Linked DNA regions of Homo sapiens. The protein of the gene in region 1 interacts with the protein of each later gene in a biochemical or structural test. Each region holds a gene or a part of one and is shown in the gene's direction. Other genes may lie near its edges.

Region 1 (8,031 bases):
CCCATCCTCATATTTTCAGAAAAAGGAGGAAAATTACCACTTTAAACTGCAATGACACATTTCTTTAATCACAACTGGAAAACTTTGGAAAGAAATATATTTCGGAGAAGGGAAAGAAATGCACATTTCATATTCGTTTTTTTTTCTTCCCCCTAGTAGAACTAGCTATATACAAATAAGATCTTAATTTGTCTAGTGTTTATTCTGTTATAGTTTATTTCTCAGCTGAATCTACCCTCTGTATTAGGAGTTCATTGTTGAAATGCTTATGCAATAATATAAGACTGTTTGGCATGTCACCTGTACTGCAGCCTAAACACTGTAGAAATGTTTGCAAATTAATTCTCTTTGCATTCCTGAATTATTTGAATCTTCAAAGCCCATAGATGGAGAACAGGAGATTGAGTTCTGGAGTGAAACACTGTATCCTTTAGCTTAAAGTGAAGAGACAGAAAGGAGGGGGACTTAATTACTGTGTATACACTATGTAGCAGATTCAAGAGTCCAGAGCATGCTGTTACCCAAATATGCTAAATGGCCACATCCTATCCTCTCAGACTACAGTGTTCTGAGCATGGGTTTTGGGTCATGCCTCCGGGTTCACTTCCTGGTTTTGTTACTTGTAAGCTCTGGGGCAAGTTTCTTCACTTTCTTAGCTTCATTTTCCTCAGTTATAAAATCAAGGTCATTCCTGATAGTTCCTACCTTACACAACTGTGGTGATTGCATAAAATAACTCACATCAGCTGGGCGCGATGGCTCACGCCTGTAATCCCAACACTTTGGGAGGCCGAGGTAGGTGGATCACCTGAGGTCAGGAGTTTGAGACCAGCCTGGCCAACATGGCAAAACCCTGTCTCTACTAAAAAAGCAAAAATTAGCTGGGCATGGTGGTGTACTCCTGCAATCCCAGCTACTTGGGAGGTTGAGGCGTGAGAATCACTTAAACCCAGGAGGCTGAGGTTGCAGTGTGCCGAGACGGCACCACTGCACTCCAGCCTGGATGACAGAGTGAGAGTTTGTCTCAAAACAAACAAACAAACAAACAAACAAAAACCAAACAAAAAAACCCCCAACTCACATCACTACGCTGACATATACAGTAAGCTTGAAAGTTAGGTATTTTATAGCATTATTTCTCCCAACAGAATGTATTGCCAAATTCATAGCTAAAGTGAGACAAGTCAGAATACTAGGATCTTAGATCTATTCAGGAAAAATCTACTTCACAATGACATAACTATAAGCTCTTTTCATTGAAAGTAATGGCAAAACCTGCAATTACTCTTGCACCAACCTAATATAAATACCCCTGTTTTGGCAACCAAATCTAAACTGGCTTTGGATCAAAGGTCACATATTACACAATTTCATGTCATACTTCATCCATTTATTCAACAATTTCATGTCACACTTCATCAATTCACTCAACAACTGTGTATGGTGCACACTCCACACAAGGCATGGTTCATGGTTTTTGGTATTGAGGTTTCAAAGGTTGGATAGGAGAGAGATGATCTCTGCCTTGAACTTCTCCAGTCTGGGACACAGGAACTAGACCAGGTGAAACACCAGCCGGGAAGATGCAGAGGGAGCATCCTGGAAACTGGCAGCCTTGGCTACTTTGAAGGTTCAAATTATTTTTCCTTTTCCTGAATTAGAATAATGTCTATTCTCTCCATATTGCCCTCTGTGCCCACAGGTACTACTCCTTCTTTTGGGGCTTTTCCACATCTAAAACCTGACGTATGCTAAATTCCAAGTTCTTTCCTTTCTCAGCTGCTGTGGTGACACCTGGAATCCTGGCAAGAGGGGGATGTTGTTGCATTGGGAGGAATCACAAAACGCCTGGTCTTGTCCAGCCCTTGGACTCCCCCAGGCAGAGGTGAGAGTTGAGTGGAGAGGTAGGGGACTCCTAATTCAAGGTTGGTTGTGGGTATTCTTAGCAAACAATTACACTTTACTAGAATATGAAGTGGCAAAGTGGGGAAACACACAAGGCTAAGCTTACTAAGCTTACTAATGATTTGCAGGGGAATCTGTGACTCCCCACTAACATGGAAAGTAAAAATGTACATTTTTGTGGAAAGAGTCATTTGACAAATATTTTAGCATTTGCTAGTACGAGGCACCATTCTAGGAACTGGGAATAATACATCAGTAAACCAAACTGTCAAAGTGTCCTGACCTCCTTGAGTTTTTATTTTACACAGAGATGTGGATCACAGGTTTATTTGACAAAAAGGTCTGGGACCCAAACAATGCTTTGGAATCAAGATACTAAACCTATGGTGCTCAGCGTTGTGTACCAACAACACATAAGGGGAACCTTAAAAGTTCAAATGACTTAGCCCTTCCTTGACATTCTGATTGGCTGGATCTGTGCTCGGGTTTGATAATTTATGTTTTGAAGTGCTGTTCATATTGACCTAGATTGCTTCTGAAAAAAAGCTGGAGACAAAGTTCCTCTCACCAAGCAAAGCCATGGAAAATTGGTCACCTCCTTTTTTCAGAAACACAACAATGCAATGGGATTTTCAGTTCTGGATATCCCAAGAGAGAAGCATCAACATCCCTCCTTACTTTTATTAGCTTAGAATAGCACCCTACAATGCTTTAAAAGGATGTTTAAACGTATGCCTAAACCAGGTATGGTGGCTCACATCTATAACCCCAGCACTTTGGGAAGCTGAGTCAGGAGGTTGGCTTGAGCCCAGGAGTTTGAGACCAGCCTGGGCAATCAACATAGGGAGACCCCCCCATGTCTACAAAAAATCAAAAAAATAAAACTAGCTGGGCATGGTGGCATGTGCCTATAATTCCAGATACTCAGGAGGCTGAGGTGGTAGGATTGCTTGAGTCCAGAAGTTCGAGGTTACAATCAGCTAGTCGAGCTACTGCACTCCAGCTTGGGGACAAAGCAAGACCACGTTTCTAAAAACACCACCACCACCATCAAAAAACAAACACACAAAGTATGCCCATATTTTCTAAGTTCTAGAAAGGAGAGGATAAATTATCATACTTACTAACTTGAATCCCCAAATGATTTCCCAATTTTCTTCCCAAATAGTAATACTACTATTAAGAATATAATGAGTTTTTATTATTTGCCACTTTATAAGTGTTTTCCCACGTAATACTTCCAAGAACCCTGTGAGGTCTTGTTCTACTTATTTGATCAGCGAGAAACGGAGGCGCGGAGGTCACCAAGCTTGCTCAAGGTCACACAAGGGTGGACCCCTGAGCCTACCTCTCAACCTCGACTGCTGTGTCCATCCTTTCTTCATCGTTTCAACGTACCCCCCTCATTTCTTGGAATCTCTCCTGTGACCAAAGATGAACAAAATTATACATCACTAAAGAGGAAAACAAACTGCTGGGGAGACTACTCAGCAGCCTGATTTGAGGAGTATTTGGGAAGGGCAGCCTTCCTGTGGTATGGGAGTCTTTCTGTCCGCCACCTCGCCGGGACAGAAGTCACTCCATCCGCACCCCCGGGCGACCTCCGGAGGCCGCAGCTACCCCCGGGCTGCGAATTCCGAGTTCTCTCACGCCCCCGCGGGCGCCAGGACGCAGGGCATGTCCGCGCCCGGCGGGGATCCTTATCTCCTGGCCCCGGAGTAGGTCCGCAGGCTTCTCGGCCCTGCCAGGAACTTGAGGCCGGGGCAGATGATTGACTGGGTCCAGCAGTCTCTGCTGGCAGGGCAGTTGAAAAGCTAGAGGGATCTCTTTTTTGGTTGAATACCTGAACCCACACTAGCACCATGGCTTCTCTCTCTTGCCTGTAGTTTCCCGTGTCCTAAAAAGTTGGTCCCAAAGTTTAAGGATGCGGGTGTGTGTAAGAGCGCGTGTGACCCGCACAGGGATCCCAGTTGGGGAACCGGAGGATCCCACCGTCCCCCTCCCCCGGGTCGCAGAGACCCTGGCAGACCCCGCGCCAGGACCCGAACCCGCAAGCGCAGGGCAGGCAGGGAGGCGGCGAGCGCCCCGGGGCGGGTCTCGGGGGTTTCAGTGGGACCTGCGGCAAGGGGGGCGGCGAACCAGCCGGGCTGGGTGACCGACAGCCTGGCCAGCCACTGGCCGAGGGCGGTTAGGAGGCTTAGGGCCGGCGCGAGTGCGTGCGCGTGTGCGTGAGTGTGAGCGCCAGGGTGAGTGTGGCAGCCTCCCCAACCCCCACCTGTTTGAAATGGTTTTCAAATGCCAAAGCCAGATTGCCCGGGTTTCAAAAGTTGCAAACAGTTGGAGTAAAACACGTGTGCGGCCCTCCAGCCCCAAAGGAATCCGCGGAGTCCAGGGCACTGAAAGAAAAGGAGAGAGGATAGGGGTTCAGGAAGGGTTGGGGGGGAGTTGCCTTCTCCCGGCAGGTCGGTTTTAGGACCCATCGGGAAGCACGTTGGAATCTCTCCCTTCGGGGAGGAGGGGAGGGGTGGGCCGGCCGGCTGGCGGCCGCGGGGCGCATGCGCGCGCGTCTCCTGTCGCCGGCCGCTGCGCTCCGCGGCGCGGAATAGAATGAACTGTAACAAAACAAGCCGAGCCTTTGTATCTGCTTAAAGGGGCCGCGAGCACTTACCTCCCGCCCTGCTCCCCGCCGCCCCGCCACCGCGTCTTCAGGGCTCCCGGCAACTGGCTGGAAGGGCTTCCCTCACCCTCAGTAACAGCCTGCCAGCGAGGAGAGGCGAGCCGGGCGGGAGGCAAAGAGGAGGCACCGCATTTGTAAAAGGCAAGAGAGAAAGGAAGGAAGGAAAAAAAAATAACCCGAGCGGCGCAGAGTGGACTCTGGTCCGGGAGAGCACGGGCGGGCGCCGGAACGTGGACCCAGAGGCACCGGAATGCAAACAAAGCTCGCGGGCGCCTGTGCGGGGCTCGCGGGGAAGCCCAGAAAGTTTGTTTTATGATGGCTTGAGTGCGCGAGCGTGTGCAGGGGAGCGAGGCTGCCAAGTTTCTCTCTCCTGTTTTGTGATTTGGGGAGAGATGTTTCTCCCATGAACAAGCGGAGGCTTGGGGGCTCGTGCTGTGGGGGGCACCTGTCTCTCGTTTTATTTTTTTGGAGGAGGGGTGTAACTCATCATGTCCAAAGTGATCCAGAAGAAGAACCACTGGACTAGCAGGGTTCACGAATGCACCGTGAAGCGGGGACCCCAGGGCGAGCTGGGGGTGACGGTGCTGGGAGGCGCGGAGCACGGGGAGTTTCCGTACGTCGGAGCGGTGGCGGCGGTCGAGGCAGCGGGGCTTCCCGGCGGCGGCGAGGGCCCGAGGCTGGGCGAAGGGGAGCTGCTTCTGGAGGTGCAGGGGGTCCGGGTGTCCGGCTTGCCCCGCTATGACGTGCTGGGGGTCATCGACAGCTGCAAGGAGGCCGTCACCTTCAAGGCCGTCAGACAAGGTAAGGCAGGGCGCGCCTTTGGGGGGCGCCCCGAGAAAAGGAGGGTGGTCTGTGGGCTGCCCCTTATTCTCGATTTCCTGCTTCCCTCCTCGGAGCGCAGTGAAGAGAAGTTGAGGCCGTGCGCCCTGTGGTGGCGGTGAAATACACAAAGTTGTTGCGAGGTTGAGGGTTGTTTGCCCACCTGCGTTTCGAAGAGGGGGCTGGGTTTGCGCAAGGTAGCGGGGGGACGTTTCTCAGGCCTGGCTGGCCAACCTGTTATCTCCGCCACTAAGTGCAGCGCAGTCTCGCCTGCACCCGAGAGAGAGTTGGGGAACTGAGTCAGGGGCATGGTGGACGCTGTCCTGGCTCCTTGGGGGAGGGATGCAGCTGGCGTTCTTTGGCCACGAGTCAGTTTCCATACCTGCTGAGTGGGTATACAGAAAGAGAGGGTCTGTAGTTTATTGGACCTCCCCCATCAGAAAATCTGCTTCACCCCGCGACCCCTCCAGGTGAGCTAGGACACCACTGCCTGGCGGTTCCTGAGCCCGCCGCCAGAAGAGCCTGCATTCACCCCTCAGCCGGATGACGCATGTGTCTCCACCGTGTGGCTCAGCCATACACTTGGGAGGGGGAGAGGGGGAAGGGGTGCTTGCTTTTAGCTCGAATCGGGTCCAAGTTTACCCTCCCACCACCACCATCATCGTCATTATTGATGATGAAAATGAAGCTACTATTCATTGTTGGTTTACTACATGCCCGGCTCTGTGTAAAATACTTTACTTGCACTATCTCACTCCGATTCACAACAGTTCTAAGAACGAGTTGTTCTTATTTATATACCCCAAATTAGAGATAAGGAAACTGGGATTGATACTGGTTAAGTGACTTGCTCAAGGTCACACAGTTGCCAAAAGCGAGGGTTTGAGCCCTTGCTGCAGAGCCTTAAGTATGGAGGAGGAAGGAGTGGGGGGATGACCCTACCGCACTGAAGGGGCTGATTCCTGAGGAGGGAGTGGAAGCAAATTCCTCTCTCAGAAATCTGTAGAGGCCTTTTAAAAGATGCATTTGCTGGCTGCTGGTGATGTAGGTCCCTTACATCTCACTTTGGTACAGACAAGGGGCTGTCCTCATGTCAACCCAATGGAGACCAGCTGAGGCCCTTAAAGGGCTCCCTTGTGCAAGCAAGTGCCATGACGCAGGTTCTCCCCAGTGAAAGCACCGAAGGAAGTCGTGAAGTTGAACATGGTGAAAAGTTCCCATGTGTTTCCATAAGGACAGGCAGCAGCTGGAGGAATGTGTCAAAGGAAGGGCTGGGCCTAGCTGGTCCTCTCTTGGAAACAGGCGTGCTCCAGATGAAATGGAGGAGGGGGCGGCCGACTCGCCTGGCCTTTTAGCAGCTTTGGGAGCTGAGGAGCTGACACTTAGCTATGGAAAGCTCCTTGTATTTATGACTTCATTCTCCACTGGGATACCTCCTCCAAGAAGCCCTCCAGAATCCTGCTAGGATGCACAAATTCTTCCTCCTTTGGGCTCCTTTAATGTCTACTTTGTGGCTTTTTTACTTACTCTGAACTCTGAGTTAGGTCCTCATTTCCATACAAGGTAGTGAGCTCATTAAAGGGAGAGATTGTGCCTCATTCCTGGCATACCTCTCCAGGTTTTGCTTGAGGTTCAAAACCTTTCCTGGCCTGACAATGCGTCTTCCTCACACTGGCTTTCCTGTGGGTATTACATAAGCTAACACGTGGAAAGTGCACCCAACAGTGCCTGTACATAGTAAGTGCTCCATAAAGATTAGCTATTTATGTTTGAATTGATTTTAGCAGCTATTTATTTCTGAAACTAGTTTTTAGTGTCAGGAACCTGGATAATTATGACTTGATAGGGCTGTAGAGAAAATACTGTGTGAAGGCATAGGATGGGAGCAGCTGCAGGTCTCAGTTCAGGACCATTTTGGAGAAAGGGTGGAGGAAGGACAGGCAAGGGTACCTGCCCAACTAGGGGGATGCCTCGCAGTGTCTAACGGGTCCTGAATAGGGGCTGGCTTGCAGTGTTTGCAGTGTGCAAGATGCTGCATGGGCTTGTGTCTCTTCCTTCCACTAGTTGCCAAATTTCTGGGAGGCGATGTCCCAGGGCTCTCTCATCATGGAGTTTAGGAAGGCTTGGTGAGATAATCAAGTGGGTTTGGAAACAGACACCTCTGAGTTGAAAGGAAACTGTAGTGTCTCCAGGTGTTAGCTCTCTTCACCCCTTGTGCACAGATTGTTCACAGCAGGGGCGAGTGTGTGGGTATGTTTCTGTGTGTGTGTGTATATGTATGTATGGATGGATGTACGTGAATCTACTTGTAATGGGATAGAAATATGATACTGATTGGGAAACCTGAATGGCCTGGAATTCATTGCAGTCTGAAAGTGACTATTTCATGTAATAATTACACAGGCACAGTTGGATCTTCTGACGTCTTCATTACCAGTAATGATGGCCCTAGAAACCATTTCACCAGTTTTCTGCTCCCTCTTCCATGTTGAGAATATGATTTAGATTGTATGACAGAATTGCTCTTAATGTGTCTTCATTACTGTGCCTTTTAAAGTCATATCAAGCAGGCTCATACTTGGTATATGGTAAAGAAAAATACTACTTTTGTGTTGTTTGCATCCCAAGTT
Region 2 (7,718 bases), on another chromosome or scaffold:
AGGTTCCTTTTGATACCGTAAGTCCATTTTAAAGCACACCTAGAATCTCTTGATACCTGCCCCTAGATTTGCTCACTTAAGCCATAGGTAGCCAGCTCATTATATGCAGTAACGGTAAGTTAGGCCTTTTAAAAGCTTTTCTTTCTATGCTTGAGGTCTGTATTTTTATTGCAATTGTGTGTGTGTGTGTGTGTGTGTGTGTGTGTGTGTTTGTCTTTTTTTCTTTTTTCTTTCCAAGTATTTGGTAGTTTTGTCAAGACTCGATACACAGGCATGTATTTGGCTTAAGCTTAGAATAATAATTTTTGTGCTAGATTTCCCAAGAAAACATAGGCTGCCTTTCCAGAAAATTCTACCAGCCCTCAGATGGGTTCACCCTCACCCTCCTTCAGCCCCAAGATGGTTTGATCAAGAGCTGGAGTCCAGAGGAAAGCAGGTCTGAAATTCTGTGGGAGATAAAATTCAGCAAGGAGCTCCAATTTCATGAGCGTTTGGTCTCTGGGATCGCACCAAACCTTTTTGATCAAAGGAACCCAAGACTGTGGACATGCATCGTGGGACATCTCTTCATTAGTACCTTTGGCCTCTGAATCTCAAACAGTGAATGACTTTAGTCTTTTGAAAAGAGTGGCATGTGGACTTTTTCAGAAAGTGAAGAAGAAAACATTACAATTTCCTCCTGTTGGGAACTTGGTCACAGTCATTCCAGTACTGTGTTCTTTGCTGTACTTTTTCACATTATTGTTTTTTTCCTTGTGGGATTTCATCAGAGCTCTCTATTCACTTGGGTGTGACGTTGTGAAGTTCAATCCTGTCATAGACTATATTGAATAGGGAGCTGCTCTGGTAGCCTGAATAAAGCCATGACTTTGAAGAAGTTATTTAACCTCTCTGGTGTCTATCTTTCCTTGTGTATAAAATGTGGGGATTGAATTCTGTGAGTTCTAATGTCCCTTCCTGCTCTGTGATTCGATATAGGAGAGAGGGAGGAGTTGAGGAATGAGGGTTAAAGTTTCTAGCTCAGAATGTGTTTTGCAGTTCCCTAGCAATTCCTTTAGGAATTCAGCCTTGGGACAGTTACATATCTTTATTTCCATCTTCTGCTCGTCTTCCAGCATGTGGTCTACTTCTCTTTAAATAACTGGGGAAACTGAGGCCAACTTCCTGTTGGAGCTGTGGTTTGTTGAGGGGCCTGAGTGTGGCTGGGCATAGAGTTATTTCCATTCTCAGTTTGAGCTGTTGGCCTTGTAGAAGCTTGGGCTTGATCAAGGATGGTCTGCGTGTAATGAATTATCGAGATGTTGTCTCCATGGCTGTGCCTGAGAAAACAACACGTTTTCTCTGTCAGGCTCGTGACTAATATAAATATCAGATCCCATTACAGCTTGGTAATTACCCAGGGTCTGGCCTGACGCAGTCAATCAGGGCTGGAGCTTCAGTGCCGTGGAGCTCTTGATTCCAGATTGGCCCTTGTGCCTCATCTCATCCTGTCCTGGGGATTGGCTGCACCAGATGACCTTGAGATACTCCTTTTTGAGCAGATCACTTGGGGTGGCCTTGGAGGAGTTCTTGGGTCCTAGTCACGGGGGAGCTCCAGCTGACCTGCCCTTGTCCAGAGAGCTCGTGCTCCTCATTCCTTGCTCTCTCTCTCTCTCCTTTTATTAATTTTTTTTTTTGAGATGGAGTCTCGCTCTGTCACCCAGGCTGGAGTGCAGCGGCACGATCTTGGCTCACTGCAGCCTGCGCCTCCTGGGTTCAAGCAATTCTCCTGCCTCAGCCTCCCAAGTAGCTGGGACTACAGGCGCACGCTGCCACACCTGGCTAATTTTTGTATTTTAAGTAGAGACGGGGTTTCACCACATTGGCCAGGATTGTCTTGATCTCCTGACCTTGTGATTCGCCCACCTTGGCCTCCCAAAGTGCTGGGATTACAGGCGTGAGGCACGGCGTCCAGCCCCTGGCCCTCTTTATGGAAATGCACACTTTAGTACAAGACTCTGCAATCAGGCAAACCCAAGTTCAAATCATGGATCTCACATTTATTAGCAGGGCATCTTTGACTGCCAACCATGTTGAGCTTTGGTTACATCACCTATACCAAGAGCATACTGATGCTTACTTTGTAGGGTTCTTATAGGGAGCAGGAATAATGGGCACATAGCACCCTGCAAATGCCAGACACTTAGCAGGCCTCTTGTAAGTGGTAACTATCATAGCTTCATGAAGTGCTGAGTTTATTTTCCCTTTGATTCATTGAACTTATAGCCCCTGAAGGGCGCAGACTATAACAAATAAAGTTTTTGAGCCAAAAGGAGGCTTTAGATCCTGAAGTATACTGTCATAGATCAAAAAACCATTTAGAGTCAGACTGAGACATGGGCTTATGGCTCTTGGCTGTTGCAAGGCTGGAAAGTTAGGGCAGGGCAGCAGAGGTAGGCTTCACGGATGGGGTCCTGGCAGGATGGTTACAGTTTTGATGGTGGGGTATCAGTGGACGAACATCGACAGTATGGGGGACCAGGAGCTGCTGGGCTGGCAGAAGGGAAACACTGTGGCATTTGGTGGGCAGGTATGGTTGTCCAGCATTGTACCCTTGAGGAGGGACAAATTCCATCCCTGTTATCCCAAGTCCAGAACTCATAGACCTGTCTCCCAAGTGATGTCACGGTCTCTTGGCCAGGACACTCACTGTCTACCCAGACCAGCTTTTCCAAGACACCCCCTAGGCCAGGTTTCCCCAAGTGTGTTCTGTGGCACACCTGCCTTTTAAATTACCTTGTGAAAAAAAATCAGCAGGCATGGCGTGGCTGAGCTTCCCCTTTGGAGGGCCACATCACAGGCTTGGCGGCATCCTGCTGGTAGAGAAAGTGGTTAAAATGCCCTCAAATGTGCTACCTGTGAGCAGTCTTGCTTCAGTGTCAGGGGTGCTGTGCAGTGCCCAAGGTTCAGCCTGTGATCCTGGGCAAAGACGTCATGCCTTTGTGCCTCAGTTTCCTCACCTGCAAATTGAGGTCTGTGATAGAGCACAGCCTCATGGGGTGGTTTTTTTCACCAACCCCATTTTATAGCATTTCCTAGGAGGACACTGAGAACCTATGGCCTCCCTTTGGGAGCCTTGGGCTAGCCCTGCTTCTAGGTGCCCAGGAAACTTGACCAAACATACAACAGGAGGAAAAGAAGAGCTGCCTGCCCCCTGCTGTTTGGCCTGGGGGATAAAGCATTCCAATGGTAAGTCCAAATGGACCTTCTCTTTGCCTCACAGCTATTTTGTTCCCTGGATGGGGACATTCATTGGTGGCTGATAGCCAGGAGTAAGTGCTTGCTTTGGGGCTGTCTCTCTCTTTCTCTCTCTCTCATCAGGGCATGAGAGGCCTGGTGCAGAAACAGTTACATTGGCATTCGATTGCAATGCCAGGACCTCCTTCCCAAAGTGGGCGTCCCGGCTCACACTGGCAGTGACCATGCTAATCTGTGAATCACAGCAGCCAATACCACCTTGCCAAGCTGCAGATCCCCTGGAAGGTCGCCTTTGTGGTTCCAGTGAAAGGGCTGTTTGTGCTGTGATGCCAGGCCCTGGGCCGTGTGGGGAACACTGGGTCCCTTGGAGACATCCCTGGGGATCAGACAGGGCCATGCCTTTCTGTGCACAGTCAGGGAGCAGACCAAGGATGTCTCTTTTAGAACTGCTTCTTGGGTGGGTGGAACCCCACGCATTAGGCACCTAGAAAAGGAAACCCAGGGACCCTCGGAGGCAAGGGTGTCCTAGCACTTTGGACAGAAAACCTGGGGAATGTTCAGTGGGAATATCACATCTTTATCTCCAAGGACTGGAGAGTGTCTCTAGGCCTGGGCTTCTCAAACTTTTTTTTTTTTTTTTTTTTTTTGGGACAGGGTCTCACTCTGTTGCCCAGGCTGGAGTACAGTGGCATGATCACTGCTCACTGCAGCTTCAACCTCCCAGGCTCAAGTGATCCTCTTGCCTCAGCTCCCCAAGTAGCCAAGACTTATGGGTGTGTGCCACCACACCTGGCTAGGTTTTAAATTTTTTACAGAGATGGGGTCTCCCTATGTTGCCCAGGCTTGTCTTGAACTCCTGGGTTCAAGTGATCTTCCCATCTTGGTCTCCCAAAGTGCTCCCACAGTGGTGTGAGCCACTGTGCCTGGCTTAGTCAAACTTTAATATGCTCAGGAATCACCGAGAGCTGTTAAAATGCAGGCTGTGATTCAGAAGATCCAGTGTGGGACCTGAGATTATGCTGGTCTGGCGAGACACAGGCTATACTGATGCTGTGCAGACCACACTTTGAGTATCAAGGATCTGGTCCATCCCTCAGCCTCCGTGCAGTCCATCCCTGAAGACAGGCTTATTTTTAAATGTGGAAATTCCCAGCTCTTGAAGGGGGAAGGGATGAGAAGCAGAAGGTTTGCTCTGCCAGATCGTTGGGTGGAGAAAACTCCTTTCAGACCAGGGTAGCTGTGGTTCGGGCTGGGCTCTTATTTGCGAAAACTGATGGTCCAGGTGCCTGCTCCTAAGGAACCCATCAGCGTTGTGGATTTAGGGTTGGGTTGTGGTGGCCAGAGCAGTGTTTACAGGGTGTGGTCTGTGTGTTACCCACCAATGTGTGGGCTCTTCCTCGTGCCAGTTGGTCATTCTGCAAAGGGTGTGACTTCCCGAAGTCCAGGAGGGCAACCCAGCCAAACTACCTCCTTGCAAAATTAAAGGCTGGTGGTGTCACCAGGGCTGCACTGCGGTGATGCCCCAGGCTGGCTGGGGACCACTCCCTCTGGAGTGTTTGAAGTCAGTGGGCATTAAGACTGCCAGCCTGATTTTCTGTAGGGGCCTGGGTGGGCCTTCCCAAATGGAGGGTTCAACCTCAAAGAATTGGCTGAAGAGCTGCCCGTGGAGTGACTGGGGGACACGCGTGGCACCGTGCTGTGTGGCCCTCCAATGCACTTCTTAAGAATTCCAGAAGATGAAAGTGAAAGTAGCTCCTTTTCTCACCATACCAGGGTTTTTCACAGCTCACACTGTCAGGGACTTTTTCCATGAGATGTGCTTTTTATGTTGTTTCATCATCAGAGGGGAGCACCATGAGTGTCTGCAGCAGGCAGAATGAAGAAGGACCTAGCATCGTGGCGGCCTGCACACAGTAGGCCCTCAAAGAAGTCTTCTGGTTATAATTATTGTTGTTGTTTTTGCTTTTGTTGCATATTAAGTGTATACGATGTGCCAGAAACCAAGCTAGGTGCTGGGGGAAAAATAATTAAGACCCAGTTCTGACTCCCTGCTTGTTAGGGCTTTTATTAGTACTTGACAGGCTGAGCAGAGGAAAAAACAGTTATCTTCTCATGGAATATGAACATCTGATCTCTGAATTGCCTGCAAACTCCTTGAGGGCAGGAACTGAGTCATGCAAATGTAAACACACGTAGATGTTGGAAGGCTCTTTCCAGTAGTTAGCTGGGGGCTGAACGAGAATGCATTGGTTGGGGGTGGCAAATATATTTTCCTGCTTTTTTGGGTAATTTGTTAGATGCTATGGAGAAACTCCTGGTGAAAGAGATGGGCTTGGTTTGTTGACAACATGGTGCTTGAATCATTCGTGGATTTTAATTATTCATGCCACCTGGTTTCTCTTGATCAGTAGCTAACAAGGATTTAGTTCATAATGGGCAGTTGTTTGTGAGGTGGATGAGTCAGGCACGGGAGGGAAGGGCAGTTTCAAAAGAATGGCTGCTTTAAGATGGAACTTGCTTTGTTTTTGGCATTATTTGGTGATTGTCTTGGGACATTGTGTCTAATTGCCAATTTGGAAATGTAATTGGCACTCCAGGCCCAGAATGGATATACACTTAACGTTGTCAAGCCGAGCCTTGGAATCATCTCCCTGTAAGATCTTGTTACCTGTATGACTAATACTTCTTCACGTGGCCAAAATCAAAATTATTTAACACATCTCCTTTATTTTCTATTCTTTATGCTGGTTCACTGGCCTCTCTACCAGATTTTCTTGGGGACTCAGATCCAGTGGCCTCTAGGCATTTCAAAGCGAATTCACAGGAAAGCCTGAATTCCAGCCTTCTCCCCCTCCTCCTCTTGCTCCATCCTTTCTTTTACATCCTTTTTTCCTTAGTGGCTGTCATTCCTGAGGGTTTCTGTGGAAAGTTGGTGCTGTTTAATTTTGGTTTCTAGCACAATAGGGAGGAATACTTCAATTTGGGGAAGAAGTAATTAAGGTAAACATTATGTAGATCTCCCCATTATCAGAGTTGACTTTTACTTGGGGAAGGGGTGTTTTTTTAAAAAGGAAAAATAGGATTTTAGATTTTTTTTTTTTTTTGAGATACCGTCTTGCTGTGTTGCCCAGGCTGGCAGGCTGGAGTGCAGTGGCATGATCTCGGCTCACTGTAACCTCTCCCTCCAGGGTTCTAGTGCCTCCTGAGTACCTGGCATTCCAGGTTCTCATGCCCCATGCCTGGCTAATTTTTGTATTTTTAATGGAGACGGGATTTCACCATGTCAGTCAGGCTGGTCTTGAACTCCTGACCTCAAATGATCCACCCGCCTTGGCCTCCCAAAGTGCTGGGATTACAGGCATGAGCCACCGCGCCCGGCGAGATTTTAGGTTTTTGACTTGAAGTGAAGTTAATTTCCATCTGTTAACTGCTGAAGTCTGGGACCATGATGTCTTTTGCAAAAGAGTTTTTAAGGCAAGACTGTCAGTAATATTCTTTCCAGGGTCACTTCTAACTGTACGAAACTATTCAGCCACGATGGGTCTGCATCTTTGCATATCATTGTAAACCAAATTATCTACAGGCTGTTGGGCTGCCTGTATGTGCATTTCAAGTTGGGAGTATAAGATGAGTATTTATTTTATTTTCTGGTTCCATGTCTTGTTCTTGCTCCTTCTTCCCTTTTAGAGACTGGACAGTCCTCTCTGTCTTCATCTTTGGGAGTGAACTGGGGCTGGGGGGTGGGATCGAGAGTGGCCTCTGCTGGCTGGGGGCTTCAGGTTTGTAGATTAGTAGACAACAAATAGCGACCTGATTTAACAAGTGCAGAAGCGCATGGAACTATAAATTCACAGTGGTGGAAGGAAGCTTTGGGGCCTCAGGCCCTGTGCGATTCCTCCCCAGTGCTGGAAGCCCACCCTACCAGTGTGTTTATGATCTCCTGAGGCCACTATTCCACTGGGGACAAACCCACCTTACGATGAACTTGGAAAGATCTTTCTGTTTGCACTAGTCCTTGTTTGCTTCTAGTCTGTGTCTGGGACATGCAGAACAAGCCTTGGTGGATGGTAGATTTCAAATTCTAAATCCAGTTCAGGAAGGGACAGAGCTGGGTGGTGTTTCCATGTCCGCAGTGTTGAGACGTAGAATGACCTTAACCTTAACTTGTGTTTCCTCCATGAAGGCCACTTTATTTTTCTCCCTGATGGCTTCCCTGGGTTCTTCGTCCTCCTGAGACAGTGTGGTTTCCCTTTGCCCCTTTGCCCAGAGTTCAGAAAACGACCCATTCTGGTTGTTTCTTGAAGTTTGCCTTCTGAGGTCTCTTCGGTCTTGTCAGCAGCTGTGACTGGAGGCTTTTGACTGTTGCTGGGCCATAAATTCACCTCCTTATCAATGTCACGTGCCTTGTATCTCCAAGGTTTAGCCCCCTTCTCAGTTTCACGTGGGGGTTGTAATTTGGGGGCCCTGCCAAGAATTTGGAT
Region 3 (6,516 bases), on another chromosome or scaffold:
ATTTAGACTACTTATATTTAATGTAATTATTGATGAATGAGGGATGTCTGCCATTTTATTTTTTTTCTGTTTTTATTATCTGTTTTCTTTTTCCTGCCTTGTTGTTGGTTATCTGAACACTTTTTAGAATTCCATTTTTATTTATCTGTAATGTTTTTGAGTGTATCCCTTTGTATATCATTTTAGTGGAAGCTCTAGGTATTTCTCTCTATATATATAATATATATGTATATAAAGATATACATATATATATATCTTATGATAGTCTATTAGCATCATCATTCTACCAGTTCAAGTGAAGTATAGAAAACTTCTTATTTCCTCTTATGTCTCTTTGCCTTCCCTCATTTATAATATAACTATCTCAATAATTCCTCTACATCCATTTAAAACCACATCAGGCAGCATTAATGTTTTTGTTTCAAAACATTAAATGTAACTTAGACTCTAAAAGGGAAGGACAGCCTATTGTATTTACACATATTTTGGCTTACCATGTTCTTTCTTATTTTCTAATATTCTAAGTTTCCTTCTTTTATAAATTCCTTTCTGTTTAGAGAACTTCCTTTAGTCATTCTTTGTTTGTTTGTTTTTTGTTTTGTTTTGTTGTTGTTTTTTTTTTTTTTGAGATGGAGTTTCGCTCTTGTTGCCCCAGCTGGAGTGCAATGGCATGATCTCGGCTCATTGCAACTTCTGCCTCCCAGGTTCAGGCAATTCTCCTGCCTCAGCCTCCCGGGTAGCAGAGGTGACAGGTGCCTGCCACTGGGCCCGCTAATTTTTGTATTTTTAGTAGAGACGGAGTTTCACCATGTTGGCCAGACTGGTCTTGAACTCCTGACCTCAGGTGATCTGCCAGCCTCAGCTTCCCAAACTGCTGGGATTACGGGCGTGAGCCACCAAACCCAGCCTAGTCATTCTTTTAAGATAGGTCTGCTGGCAGCAAAGTCTTAGTTTTCCGTCTGAAAAAGTCTTGATTTTTCTCTTTGTACTTGAAGGATATTTTTGCTGGACATAGAATACTAGTTTGGCAGGTCTTTTCTTTCAGCATTTGAGAAATGTGCCATTTCTTTCTGTCCTCCATAGTTTCTGATGAGAAATCTGCTATTCAGTAGTTTTAGGCTGCAATATCATAGTAAGGTATTCATGTCAACAGGGTCAGTAGGTCACAAGTTCTCTAAGTTTGAAGCGTCAGCTTCAACCAAACAAATTAATGGCTATTCTACATTCAAAAATCAGGAAATTTAAATTTATTATGAAATGTAATGCAGCATGTAGTAAAGACTTAACCAGTGTTTTAAAACTCAACTTTCAAAGAAAAGATAGTATTGCTCCCTGTTTCATTAAAACCTAGAGAGATGTAATCAGTAAGCAAGAAGGAAAAAGGGAAATTCACAAAGTAACTTTTTGTGTCTGTTTCTTTTTAACCCAGCATGGAGAGAAAATTTATGTCCTTGCAACCATCCATCTCCGTATCAGAAATGGAACCAAATGGCACCTTCAGCAATAACAACAGCAGGAACTGCACAATTGAAAACTTCAAGAGAGAATTTTTCCCAATTGTATATCTGATAATATTTTTCTGGGGAGTCTTGGGAAATGGGTTGTCCATATATGTTTTCCTGCAGCCTTATAAGAAGTCCACATCTGTGAACGTTTTCATGCTAAATCTGGCCATTTCAGATCTCCTGTTCATAAGCACGCTTCCCTTCAGGGCTGACTATTATCTTAGAGGCTCCAATTGGATATTTGGAGACCTGGCCTGCAGGATTATGTCTTATTCCTTGTATGTCAACATGTACAGCAGTATTTATTTCCTGACCGTGCTGAGTGTTGTGCGTTTCCTGGCAATGGTTCACCCCTTTCGGCTTCTGCATGTCACCAGCATCAGGAGTGCCTGGATCCTCTGTGGGATCATATGGATCCTTATCATGGCTTCCTCAATAATGCTCCTGGACAGTGGCTCTGAGCAGAACGGCAGTGTCACATCATGCTTAGAGCTGAATCTCTATAAAATTGCTAAGCTGCAGACCATGAACTATATTGCCTTGGTGGTGGGCTGCCTGCTGCCATTTTTCACACTCAGCATCTGTTATCTGCTGATCATTCGGGTTCTGTTAAAAGTGGAGGTCCCAGAATCGGGGCTGCGGGTTTCTCACAGGAAGGCACTGACCACCATCATCATCACCTTGATCATCTTCTTCTTGTGTTTCCTGCCCTATCACACACTGAGGACCGTCCACTTGACGACATGGAAAGTGGGTTTATGCAAAGACAGACTGCATAAAGCTTTGGTTATCACACTGGCCTTGGCAGCAGCCAATGCCTGCTTCAATCCTCTGCTCTATTACTTTGCTGGGGAGAATTTTAAGGACAGACTAAAGTCTGCACTCAGAAAAGGCCATCCACAGAAGGCAAAGACAAAGTGTGTTTTCCCTGTTAGTGTGTGGTTGAGAAAGGAAACAAGAGTATAAGGAGCTCTTAGATGAGACCTGTTCTTGTATCCTTGTGTCCATCTTCATTCACTCATAGTCTCCAAATGACTTTGTATTTACATCACTCCCAACAAATGTTGATTCTTAATATTTAGTTGACCATTACTTTTGTTAATAAGACCTACTTCAAAAATTTTATTCAGTGTATTTTCAGTTGTTGAGTCTTAATGAGGGATACAGGAGGAAAAATCCCTACTAGAGTCCTGTGGGCTGAAATATCAGACTGGGAAAAAATGCAAAGCACATTGGATCCTACTTTTCTTCAGATATTGAACCAGATCTCTGGCCCATCAGGCTTTCTAAATTCTTCAAAAGAGCCACAACTTCCCCAGCTTCTCCAGCTCCCCTGTCCTCTTCAATCCCTTGAGATATAGCCAACTAACGACGCTACTGGAAGCCCCAGAGCAGAAAAGAAGCACATCCTAAGATTCAGGGAAAGACTAACTGTGAAAAGGAAGGCTGTCCTATAACAAAGCAGCATCAAGTCCCAAGTAAGGACAGTGAGAGAAAAGGGGGAGAAGGATTGGAGCAAAAGAGAACTGGCAATAAGTAGGGGAAGGAAGAATTTCATTTTGCATTGGGAGAGAGGTTCTAACACACTGAAGGCAACCCTATTTCTACTGTTTCTCTCTTGCCAGGGTATTAGGAAGGACAGGAAAAGTAGGAGGAGGATCTGGGGCATTGCCCTAGGAAATGAAAGAATTGTGTATAGAATGGAAGGGGGATCATCAAGGACATGTATCTCAAATTTTCTTTGAGATGCAGGTTAGTTGACCTTGCTGCAGTTCTCCTTCCCATTAATTCATTGGGATGGAAGCCAAAAATAAAAGAGGTGCCTCTGAGGATTAGGGTTGAGCACTCAAGGGAAAGATGGAGTAGAGGGCAAATAGCAAAAGTTGTTGCACTCCTGAAATTCTATTAACATTTCCGCAGAAGATGAGTAGGGAGATGCTGCCTTCCCTTTTGAGATAGTGTAGAAAAACACTAGATAGTGTGAGAGGTTCCTTTCTGTCCACTGAAACAAGGCTAAGGATACTACCAACTACTATCACCATGACCATTGTACTGACAACAATTGAATGCAGTCTCCCTGCAGGGCAGATTATGCCAGGCACTTTACATTTGTTGATCCCATTTGACATTCACACCAAAGCTCTGAGTTCCATTTTACAGCTGAAGAAATTGAAGCTTAGAGAAATTAAGAAGCTTGTTTAAGTTTACACAGCTAGTAAGAGTTTTAAAAATCTCTGTGCAGAAGTGTTGGCTGGGTGCTCTCCCCACCACTACCCTTGTAAACTTCCAGGAAGATTGGTTGAAAGTCTGAATAAAAGCTGTCCTTTCCTACCAATTTCCTCCCCCTCCTCACTCTCACAAGAAAACCAAAAGTTTCTCTTCAGAGTTGTTGACTCATAGTACAGTAAAGGGTGGAGGTGATATGGCATTCTGAAAGTAGGGAGGGACTAAGTCAGTCATCATACTAAACAAAAATCCCAGTACCCTTTCCTTATTTAGCTACCAGAATGATGACAGACAGACTCAAACCCTGTCAAGACAGGACCCTGGAGGATCCTCCTATGGGGAAACTGCATAATCTGAAAAAAAGGCTGACAGATACAAATAGTTGAGGATCCTTCAACACAAAAGCTGCGTGTCTGCCCTATTACTCACCTGACGATGAAGCCCACAATGCAACAAATCCCTTCCACTCACAGCATTTGGTCAACCTGTCAGAGCCTCATTCTTAATTATGAAAAGTAGTCAATGAACACAATACATTTGAGGGAAAGGCCGTAACATGAAAGGCACCAACAAATAAATGTGAGAGTAGATAGAGACCTTTTGAGTATAAAAGATCCTCCAAAATAAGAGATTAAACCAAGATAGAGGAAAACACAGTAGCTGGGAAACAAGGAATCCAACGCAGGAGAAAGTGAAGAGAATTCCCAGGATGTTGGTGTGTAGCAGGCTTAGAAAGCAAGTCATTCATGTTGGAGCAGGACTCTTAAAGGACTCTAGGAGAGATGTCTCCCAGAAAAAGAAGAAATTAATTGATTCATACACATTGAGAGGGATTTAGATTTCTCTTGCAGAGATTGAGATAAACTAGTCGTAAATACATAGAAAAATAAGCAAGTAAAAACGCAATACAGTTTTTAAGTGCTAGAGGAAAAGAAACTTTTGTATTAGAGAGGAAATATAACCACAGTACACTACATGGCTCAGCTGTGAATAATATTTACATAGAGGATAATGTGAATATAATAGTCTCCCATTATCTGTGGTTTTGCTTTCTGCAGTTCAGTTACAGCCAGCCAGTCTGAAAATATTAAATGGAAAATTCCAGAAATAATTCTTAAGTTTTAAAACATGTGCTGTTTTGAGTAGCATGTTGAAATCTCGCACTATCACCCTCCACCCATGTTCTGGGCAGGGCAAAGTGGGATGGTGTGAGATTTCTCCAGTGGATCCACAATGTATATGCTACCCACCCATGAGTCACTTAGTCATCATCCAGTTGCTCAGATCAACTGTTGTGGTATAACAGTGCTTGTGTTAAAGTCACTCTTATTTTACTTACTAATGTCCCCAAAGCATAAGAGTAGTGATGCTGGCAAATAAGATACACCAAAGAGAAGCTGTAAAGTGCTTCCTCTAACAGAAAATGTGAAAGTTCTTGACTTAATAAGGAAAGAAAAAAAACACATGCTGAAGTTGCTAAGATCTACAGTAAGAACAAATCCATCTGTAAAATTGTGAAGAAGGCAAAAGAAATTTGTGCTAGTTTTGCTGTTGCACCACAAGCTGCAAAAATTATTTATTACACCCCACGGTGTGTGATAAACACTTAGTTAAGATGAAAAGGTATTAAATTTGTGGGTGGAAGACATGAACAGAAATGTGTTCCAATTGACAGCAATCGGGTTTGGTACTATTTGGGTTTGGTGCTATTCGTATTCAGGGTCTTGGAATGCAACTCCCACAGATAAGGGGGTGCTGCTGGAGTGAAATACTGTGATATAACCTTTTTTTCAGGAAATGAAGGGAGAAGATGTGTACGTGTGTGGGAGAGGTATAAGAGACCTAGGTTGCCATATTCTATCACAGAAAATGCATAATAACTAAATCTGGAAAATGATGAATAGCTGTACAACCATATTATTTAGCAATAGGAGGTAAATACAGGTAGAAGCAGAAGAAAGAATGGGCAGGGGTTACCTCTATGGAGAAGCTGGGGTGGGAGGATAGGGTGGGGACTTATTTTACGAACTGTGTAATTGCCTAACTTGTGAATATGTATTTCTGAAGTAAAATAAAAATTAAGTTAAAATTAAATTTTAAAATTCAAACTAATTCTGAGTTGTTTTTTAAAACAAAAACAAAAAAAGACAAGAAAGCCCATCAGAAATGGAAACTGAACATTGACAGAAGAAAGGAAAGCAGGAAAGGACCAGAGTTGTATTTCAGTTCTTGAGAGAAGCCCATCTAGTCCTGCCATGGGAGGCAAGTCCTTTCTTGGGGTGAGGAAAGTCACTTTCTGGGGTTAGAGAGATTTTGATATGTTACTTGGGATATTTTTAGTTGCAAGTAACAGAAAACCCTACCCCAAGTGGCTTACATAATAAAGGGATTTGATTATCTCATATAACTGAAATATACCGAGGGAAGTTGGACTTCAGGCCTTGTTCAACCAGGACATCTGTGGGCTTTCCTCCCCAGATGTTGGCTCTGCCACATGGGTGAATCCTCTCATGGAAACAAGCTGACTGCAAGCAGCCTGAGACTACACACTTCCTTATTTGTTTCTAAAGCAAACTAATGAAGAATGGATTACTCTGAATGAGGATGATGACAGTACACACCTAAAGTAGTTGAGGTGAAACCCGCTGAAATCTCATCTGGGAAAGGGGTGAAATGGGGCTTGCAGAGGCCACATATGTACTGCAAATGAGGTGGAGAGAGAGCTGCCAACCAGCTAAGCATCCATGCTGGGTGTGGCATGTAACTGAGCAGGCAGCCGGGCAGC
Region 4 (7,718 bases), on another chromosome or scaffold:
GGAATACAATGTCCCCTCCCACCCCGTCCCCAGCCACTGGATTCCCTCCCAGAGGCAACCATTTTGCCAATTTCACAAGTGTCCTTCCAGAGACATTCTCCGCATACACGAGTAATTTTGTATACGTATTCTTTTTTGTTTTTACCTGAATGTTGCATGTTATACACACTGTCTACACCTTGCTTTTTTCATATAATCATCTATCTTAGAGATGGTTCCATATCAGTACATAAAGAGCATCTTCATTCTTTTTGCATTTGCATAATATCACAAAATGTACCATAACTTATTTAAACCAGTCTTTATTCTCAGTCTTTAGTTATTACAAATGCTGCTGCAATGAATAATCTTTGAAGGGTGATATTTGGCAGAGGCACAAATATATCTATCCTGGAGCTGCTACTGCCCTCGGTCTCTCCCACCCTGTCTCCTTTCCCACCCGACGCTTTCTCCCTTGGTGCTGAGGAAGACGGGGGTCAAAGGGCAGAAGGGGGGACACCCCAGGCTGTCCGAGGGCCAGGGATTCTGATTGTGGAAGAGAGAGACTGACCTAAGCAGTCCCAAGAATCCCGTCGCCTAAAGATCAGAGCTGGAAGGGACCGTGGAGACTCTCCTTCCCATCTTGAGGTTCCCAGACTTGCCTGGTTATAAGAATCGTCCAGAGGCAGATCTCCTGAGGTCAGGAGTTCAAGACCAGCCTGTCCAACATGGTGAAACCCCATCTCTACTAAAAATACAAAATTAGCCGGGTGTGGCGGGATTACACCTGTAATCCCAGCTACACGGGAGGCTGAGGCAGGAGAATCGCTTGAAACCAGGAGGCGGAGGTTGCAGTGAGCCGAGATTGTGCCATTGCACTCCAGCCTGGGCAAAAAGAGCGAAATTCCATTAAAAAAAAAAGTGGGGCCAAGTGCGGTGGCTCACGCCTGTAATCCCAGCACTTTGGGAGGACGAGGCAGGCAGATCACGAGGTCAGGAGATCGAGACCATCCTGGCCAACATGGTGAAACCTCATCTCTGCTAAAAATACAAAAATTAGCCGAGCATGGTGGCGCATCCCTGTAATCGCAGCTACTCAGGAGGCTGAGGCAGGAGAATCACTTGAACCAGGGAGGCGGAGGTTGCAGTGAGCCCAGATCGCGCCACAGCACTCCAGCCTGGCGACAGAGCAAGACTCTGTCTCAAAAAAAAAAAAAAAAATGGAATCTCCCAGAGCACTTGTCCAAATACAGGTCCCAGGGCCACACCCAACACCTAAGAAATCACACTGTCCAAGGAGGACCTGGGAATCTGTGTCTTTCATGAGTGCCCCAGGGGAGCCTTCTGATGGGGCAAAAGTGAGAAACTCTAATCTAGTGCGACCCGTTCACACTACAGATGGGGAGACTGGGGCCCAGAAAAGGGGAATGATTCACACAAGGTCACGTGGCTCTGGGACATTCCCTTTTTTTTTTTTTTTTTTTTTTTGAGACAGAGTCTTCCTCTGTCGCCAGGCTGGAGTGCTGTGGCGCGATGTCGGCTCATTGCAACCTCCACCTCCCTGGTTCAAGTGATTCTCCTGCCTCAGCCTCCTGAGTAGCTGCGATTACAGGAATGCACCACCATGCTGGGCTAATTTTTGTATTTTTGGCAGTTAAGTCAGAGCCCGGAACCCAGGGCTTTGGAGCCCAGGCTCCGGAGCACAGGCTCTGCAGCCCAGGCTCTGCTTTGCCCACTGCCAGGTATCTGGCGTGAAACAAAGTTAACGGAGAAAGAATCACTTTCCTTCACCTGTAGCTCCCACCCCGGCCTGGCAAGCTTTGGTTAGCCCCACCCCTGGCTTCCTGGCCTCAAGTCACTGAGCTAATGCGGGGCTCTGCTGTCTCCTTCCGGAAGCTGCAGCTAGGTCAATGCCTAGCTTAAAAGACTCACGAGTTCTTCCACGGTGCTGCTCTGGCAGGGCGAGGGGCTGCCTGGCATCTCAGATCCCACAGGCCAGACCTTTGGGTGGCACTCAAGGCTGGGGTGGGTTGGTCAGGCTCCCTGATGATCTGATCTGAGCAGGGAAAGCCCTCAGCTTGCTAAGCCCCCACACAGAGAGCCCACCTGGGAAGTCCTGGGATTGGGAGGAGGGCTCCTCCTGGACTGGGGGAAGGAGGTGGGGTTCCAGGTTAGGAGACTTAGTTGGGCCAGAGGAGATGGCCTTGGCCTTGGCTGGTGGGGTGGGAGTGGGCAAGACCGTTCAGGGATGTGAGGAGCCCGTAGCCTGGCACACAGTAGAGGAGGTGGGAGGAAAGGAAACAGGGCTGGTGCTCAGAGGAGCGGGTCAGTGCTGTCAGTGACTCAGGACCACACGCCATTGCAGAGAGGGATGGTGTCCAGGAGGCACAGCTAAGCCATGAGGTCAGGCTGCAGGCCGCACTGTCTGTCCCAGCTTCACGCCCTGCACTCAACCCTCCTGAGGGTCAGCGCGGGGTCTTCGTGGTTCACCTGTCTCTCCTGCTCTATTGCAAGCCCCTTCTTTTCAGTTGGCTGATGGGGACACTCGGCAGCCCCCATTTTCCCCAGCACCCTTCAAAGGCCTAAGGGCAGTAGGTTAGCCACCCTCAGCCTGCCCTGCAACACCCAACCCTGCCAGGACAGGGGTCTCTACCTCTGTCCACCAGCAGGGTTAGGACAAGGAAGAGGATCGGGAGCCCGGTCTCATCAGCCCCCTCTTTGCATTGCAGTGGGAATAGCACGGACCTTAGGGTTTGGGTTTCAACGGGAACCTGCTGCATGACCTTGAGGAGGCAACTTAACCTCACCAAGTTCCCAAAAATGGTGGCCAGGAATTCAGATCTCTGCCTTCTGGGGATGGAAGGGTGGTGTTGGCCTGTCTTGGCCTATGGGAGACGTTCCATTCACCTGCCGCCCCCTGTCTCTCATCTCCCCTGTGAGGTCAGGGGAGGTTGTAGTGTACACCTGGGGGAGTGACCCGCCCCACCCCCCAGCCCATCCGTGCCTGGCTCTGCCATCTCTTTCCTCTGCAGCCCCTGCTGGCCTGGTGCCTAGCACTCTGGGTAATCGATTAGTTTAATTAGTGAAAATGCCATTCCCTTCTGCCAGCCCCCAGCCTCGCCAGACCCCTCCCAGAACTGCAGAGGAAAGTATCCAATTAATTGAGTGGTAGGTTTCTCAGCTCTGGGCCTGGGCTAAGCCCTAATTAAGCTCCAGCGCCCTGGGGTATCGCAGATAATGGATTCGCAGAAGTCTGCCTGTGAAATGGGACTTGCAAGGGCACCTCAAGGCCAGGCACCCCAGGAGATCTGCCCGCAGCCAGCACCACCAGGGGACAGGCCCCCAACTGTTGCATGCATGGCTGGCCGGGGGATGGCACTGAGCCCCCAGCACCACCCCTACACCTGCTGCCTGTATCAGCACCCTCTCCTCCCCCCACCACCTCCCGCTACTACTGTTCACTCCCTTCCCCACCGTCCAGCCTTCCCCCACCCACCCAACACTTGCACACACTCTATCCCCTTTCCCCACGTTCTGCTGCGCACAGGAGCCTGGGCCTCAGGCACAGCCTGGGAGAGCACACCGTGGTGGGACATGAAACGGATTCTGGGGGTCTGGTTTGTGGACCAAGGTTCACTGCTCACCGTGTGGGGAGAGGTGAGTGGTGGTTGGACCAGGGCTTCTGAACTGCAGAGGTGCTTTTTCCTAAAACCAAGCTCCGATTCCATGGGCCTGGCGTAGGGCATACATTCCACTTTCCTCAAGATCTCTGCGTGCTCCTCTGCGTGCTGTTGCTGGGCCAGGGGCCACCCTTTGAGGATCGAGGGGCTGGAGTGAGTGCCCACTGCAGGGTAAGAGGAGTAGCTCTGGAAGCCTCGGTGGAGAGGACGTGCCAGAATGGAGTGGGCACCAGTGGGGAGCTTGGAAGGGAGGTCTCATTGCCACCAACCCAGAGAGGCATCAGGACGGATCTGGCACTGCAGCGCCTGGGACGAGGTGGTGTCCTGCAGAGAGTCCAGTCAGAGTCAGCCGGGCACAAATTGCTTATTCAATTCAGATCACTGAGGGTACAGCGGAGTGGCCTCTGCCAAGTACCACGCTGTGCCACCCTCCTTAGGGCGGGGTGCCTGCTGGTCTTAGGTCTCCAGACTGGATGGAGATGGAGTGCTGGTCAGGGCCCGAGGGGTAGCTGTGCCCATTTGTCCTTCGGACATCCCAGCTGCTTTGCTGTTATCGTGGCCATCGGTCGGGGTGTCACTGGCTGTCCCTGGGGGTGCTGCTGACTCTCCTCTCCAGGTATCACTGGCCACCTCTCAGGGTGTTCCTGGGTGCCTCTTAAGGCCTTGCTGTCTCTCTAAATAATGCTGGCCAGAACTCTGGTTGTTATTGGAAATGTCACAGTGTCACTGGCTTCTGTCTGGGTGTCGCAGGATGTATTTGTCTCAGGGTATCAGCAGCCATCCCTCAGGCTGTCTCTCCAGCTGTCTTCTCAGGTTGCATGATGCTGATGTGGCCGATGAGAGACAGGGCTTGAACCCGGCCCAGGCCCGACTGCTCAGGGAGGCACACTGAGACTTTGTCCCCCGGGAATGGTTTGGCCTGATTCTCCCTCAGGCTCTTGGAGGAAAGCCCTCTTGGGCGCTATTGTCCCAGCAGGAGGTCCCCCGAGGCTCCTGGGCCCAAAGTGGCGTGAGACCACCCCAGAGAGTGCCTCTGCTTTCAATTCCTGCTTGTCCCCCAAGAAATGTCGCAGGGGGCCGGACACGGTGGCTCACGCCTGTAATCCCAGCACTTTGGGAGGCCGAGACAGGTGGATTGCCTGAGCTCAGGAGTTCGAGACCAGCCTGGGCAACATGGCAAAACCCCATCTCTACCAAAAAATACAAAATATTAGCTGGGCATGGTGGTGCATGCCTGTGATCCCAGCTACTCGGGAGGCTGAGGCAGGAGAATCACTTGAACCCAGGAAGCAGAGGCTGCAGTGAGCTGAGATCCTGCCACTGCACCACTCCAGACTGGGCGACAGAGTGAGACTCCATCCCTCCCCCACCCAAAAAAAGAAATGTCCCTGGGAAACAGGGAAAAGAGGGAGCTTAAAGCCAGGCAGACCCAGGTTCCAGATACCGGCTGCGTGGCGTGGCCAATTATTCAGTCTCTTCTACGGAAAGAACTGGGATGAGAGGAGCAGTCTCCAAGGGCAGCTGTGGGAAAGAAAAGCAGTAGTGTCTGCAGAGCTCCTGGCACAGTGCTCAGCATACAGCAGGTGCTTAACAGATAACTCCTCCCCACTCCAACCCCAAGGGCCCGGTACGGCCTGACTCGGGAGTGAGGCAGGGGCCCTGGAAGGCAGCACTGAAGGGTCTCCCTGCACACTGCGCTCCTCCCGCCCAGCCTGGGCCTGTGAACAAGGCCGGGGTGTTGTGCCATGCTCGGCTCCACACATGTTGTCATTACCCAGGGGCTTCTCAGCATGGATTTGTGGAAAATTTAATAAAAGGATATTAAATACCAGCTCCAGACAGCCTGTGATGTGTGCATATCTTCCAGAGCCTCCGGATTGGGGCATCTGCCGCCAGGCGCTCAGAGACCCTCCCCACTTGCACGGGTGATAGGTACCCTCTCCTCACTCCCCTCTCTGTCTCTGTCTCTCCTGCCTTCATTTACACCTCCCTGGATCCCAGTCCTTTGGAGGCTGGAGTTGCTAATGTAATTACCTGCCATGTTCCAGAAAGCCTCTGCCTGGAAACCAGCTCCAAGAACAGAGCTTCTGTAGCAGCCTCTGGAGAGGTTCCCCAATGAGGGTGCTCCTTCAGAAGGGCCTTGGTGGCCGGGCGGAACTGGGCATAGGGTCTTGGCTTCTCCTGGGATGCCTGGTGGATAGGGCTGGACTTGATCTCTGGTTTCAAGTGGGTTCTGTAATTCCAACAGGAAGGCCTATGGAGTAGCTCCTTGGTGGCCAGTAGCTCCTTGGTGGCTCTGAGAAGATGATGAGGGCCGTTGTGAGCTCAGTGCTTCTCAGCACTTGCATGTCACCCACCTTTGTGCCTCATGATCATTCAGCCCCACCCTAGAGCCTAGAAACGGGGAGGAAGGGAGGTGCTGCCAGGGACCCCTCCCTTCTCAAAGTCACCTGCTTTTCAACACCCGTCTTTCCTTCCTTCACTCACACACTGCTTTGGAGTTTGACTGCGTGTCAAGCTCTTGGTTTCTAGGCCCTGCTTCTTGGGACCTATAAAAGTGTGGATGGGGGCTGTGCTCTTGGGCAGGAGTCTGCAGAGAGCTGGGCATGGGGACTGACCAGTCCCCTATTATGGGCTGGGGACCTGTTTGCAGCCTTCGTATCTTGCCAATCTACATGTGCAGGCAAGAGGTGGTTTTGGAGTTGCGCGACCTCCAGCGCGTCAGCATAACCTCTGTGCTGTTTTCCTACAAAATAAAGCCCAGATGCCTTTCCGGCTCCCCCCACGGGGTTGCCCTGATGGTTTAAGACGATAACAGATATGAAAATCCTCTGTAAACAGGAAGGCTTCACCACTCTTGGAACTCAAGATTGCTGTAAAGAGGAGGGCAGTGACCTCCATCAGTATATTAAATTCATTAAGAAATAAACCCGGGGAATGTGTTACAGTCCTGGGAGAGGATCCTGCTCACTCTGCACAGATCCCCTTGGGCCAGGGATGGGGAAGGCCCCGGAAAGTGAGTTATGGAGCCTAAGGAGACTTTTCTGTGGTTTCTGCTGATTCTGTGGATGCCAGAGCCCAGCAGCTGCCCGGCCCCTCCTTGCTCACAGGAGCAGGCGGCATTGCAGCAGGAGGGATTTAGGGGTGGCTGAGAAGGTGGTGACTCAGTTCAGAAATGGGTGGAGAAGAGAAATCCCGGGAGTTTGGTGTCTCTGCAGCTGAGAGGTCCACCTGGTGTTCTGACTGGGTGGCAGCATGGGTAGATGCGAGTGTGAGGGCGCACCTGTGAGCCGGCCACATGTGCTTGTGCATGCAGGGGCGGGGGGTCCATGTGGAGTGGGGAATCCCACGTGATGTGGAGATTCAGTTCGACACAACACGGAGCAGTGAACACAGCATGGGATTCAGGGACAAGCAGAGCCTCAAACTGGACGGCGTTGCTCTGCAGCGAGGCCTGACCCTCAGCAGATGCTCAGGAAGGGGGAGTGGCCCTTGAGATCATGACCCGCTCCATCCCAGCCACCCCTAGGCGATGTCCTCACAGAGCAGCTCCCATCCAGCAGAAGGCTCACCTCTGCCCCTCTCTCCTGCTCCAGAAAAAAAGCAAGGTGCACTACCATGTCGCAGTCATCATCAACTACCTGGGCCACTGTATCTCCCTGGTGGCCCTCCTGGTGGCCTTTGTCCTCTTTCTGCGGCTCAGGTGAGAAGACCCCAGCACTGCCTCCTCCTGTCCCCAGGACCTAGAGCAGAAGCAGGGTGGAGAAGTGAGAGGAGCAGCTCTAGGTTGGGGTGGGGGTTGCTGGGAGAGGGTGGCAGGGGCTGGCTTATCTGAGAGTCTCAGGTCTCTGGGAACCTCTGGCAGAGCCGCTCTGCCCTCTCCCCAGTAGCTGCTGGAATGGTGGGGAGGGACAAAACTTGTCTTATGTCACCCATACCCAGGCCAGGCTGCACCCATTGGGGTGACCAGGCAGATGGAGCCCTGGAGGTGGGGGCTCCATGGAGTGGTGCCCCATTTCAGGTTCGAAGGTACCTGGGCCCCAGCACTACCGCCAAGGA

Evidence for each region.
Region 2: the proteins of MAGI1 (region 1) and KCNMA1 form a complex in vitro, tested with the Homo sapiens proteins (one study listed by BioGRID).
Region 3: the proteins of MAGI1 (region 1) and CYSLTR2 interact in a test that uses a peptide from one of them, tested with the Homo sapiens proteins (2 studies listed by IntAct, with this or other methods).
Region 4: the proteins of MAGI1 (region 1) and CRHR1 form a complex in vitro, tested with the Homo sapiens proteins (2 studies listed by BioGRID and IntAct, with this or other methods).

The regions. Positions count from the first base shown.
Region 1 is NC_000003.12:66,035,348-66,043,378, reverse strand, and holds the start of MAGI1 (membrane-associated guanylate kinase, WW and PDZ domain-containing protein 1), read left to right. Parts: upstream 1-4,460; 5' UTR 4,461-5,070; coding exon 5,071-5,383; intron 5,384-8,031. UniProt on the Homo sapiens protein: Plays a role in coupling actin fibers to cell junctions in endothelial cells, via its interaction with AMOTL2 and CDH5. May regulate acid-induced ASIC3 currents by modulating its expression at the cell surface.
Region 2 is NC_000010.11:77,627,273-77,634,990, reverse strand, and holds part of KCNMA1 (Calcium-activated potassium channel subunit alpha-1), read left to right. Parts: exon of another isoform or gene 1-881; intron 882-7,718. UniProt on the Homo sapiens protein: Potassium channel activated by both membrane depolarization or increase in cytosolic Ca(2+) that mediates export of K(+). It is also activated by the concentration of cytosolic Mg(2+).
Region 3 is NC_000013.11:48,705,388-48,711,903, forward strand, and holds the end of CYSLTR2 (cysteinyl leukotriene receptor 2), read left to right. Parts: intron 1-1,429; 5' UTR 1,430-1,430; coding exon 1,431-2,471; 3' UTR 2,472-5,839; downstream 5,840-6,516. UniProt on the Homo sapiens protein: Receptor for cysteinyl leukotrienes. The response is mediated via a G-protein that activates a phosphatidylinositol-calcium second messenger system.
Region 4 is NC_000017.11:45,821,960-45,829,677, forward strand, and holds part of CRHR1 (corticotropin-releasing factor receptor 1 isoform 2 precursor), read left to right. Parts: intron 1-7,255; coding exon 7,256-7,362; intron 7,363-7,601; coding exon of another isoform or gene 7,602-7,688; intron 7,689-7,718. Other genes in the region: LINC02210-CRHR1 (CRHR1-IT1-CRHR1 protein), read left to right, coding at 7,256-7,362.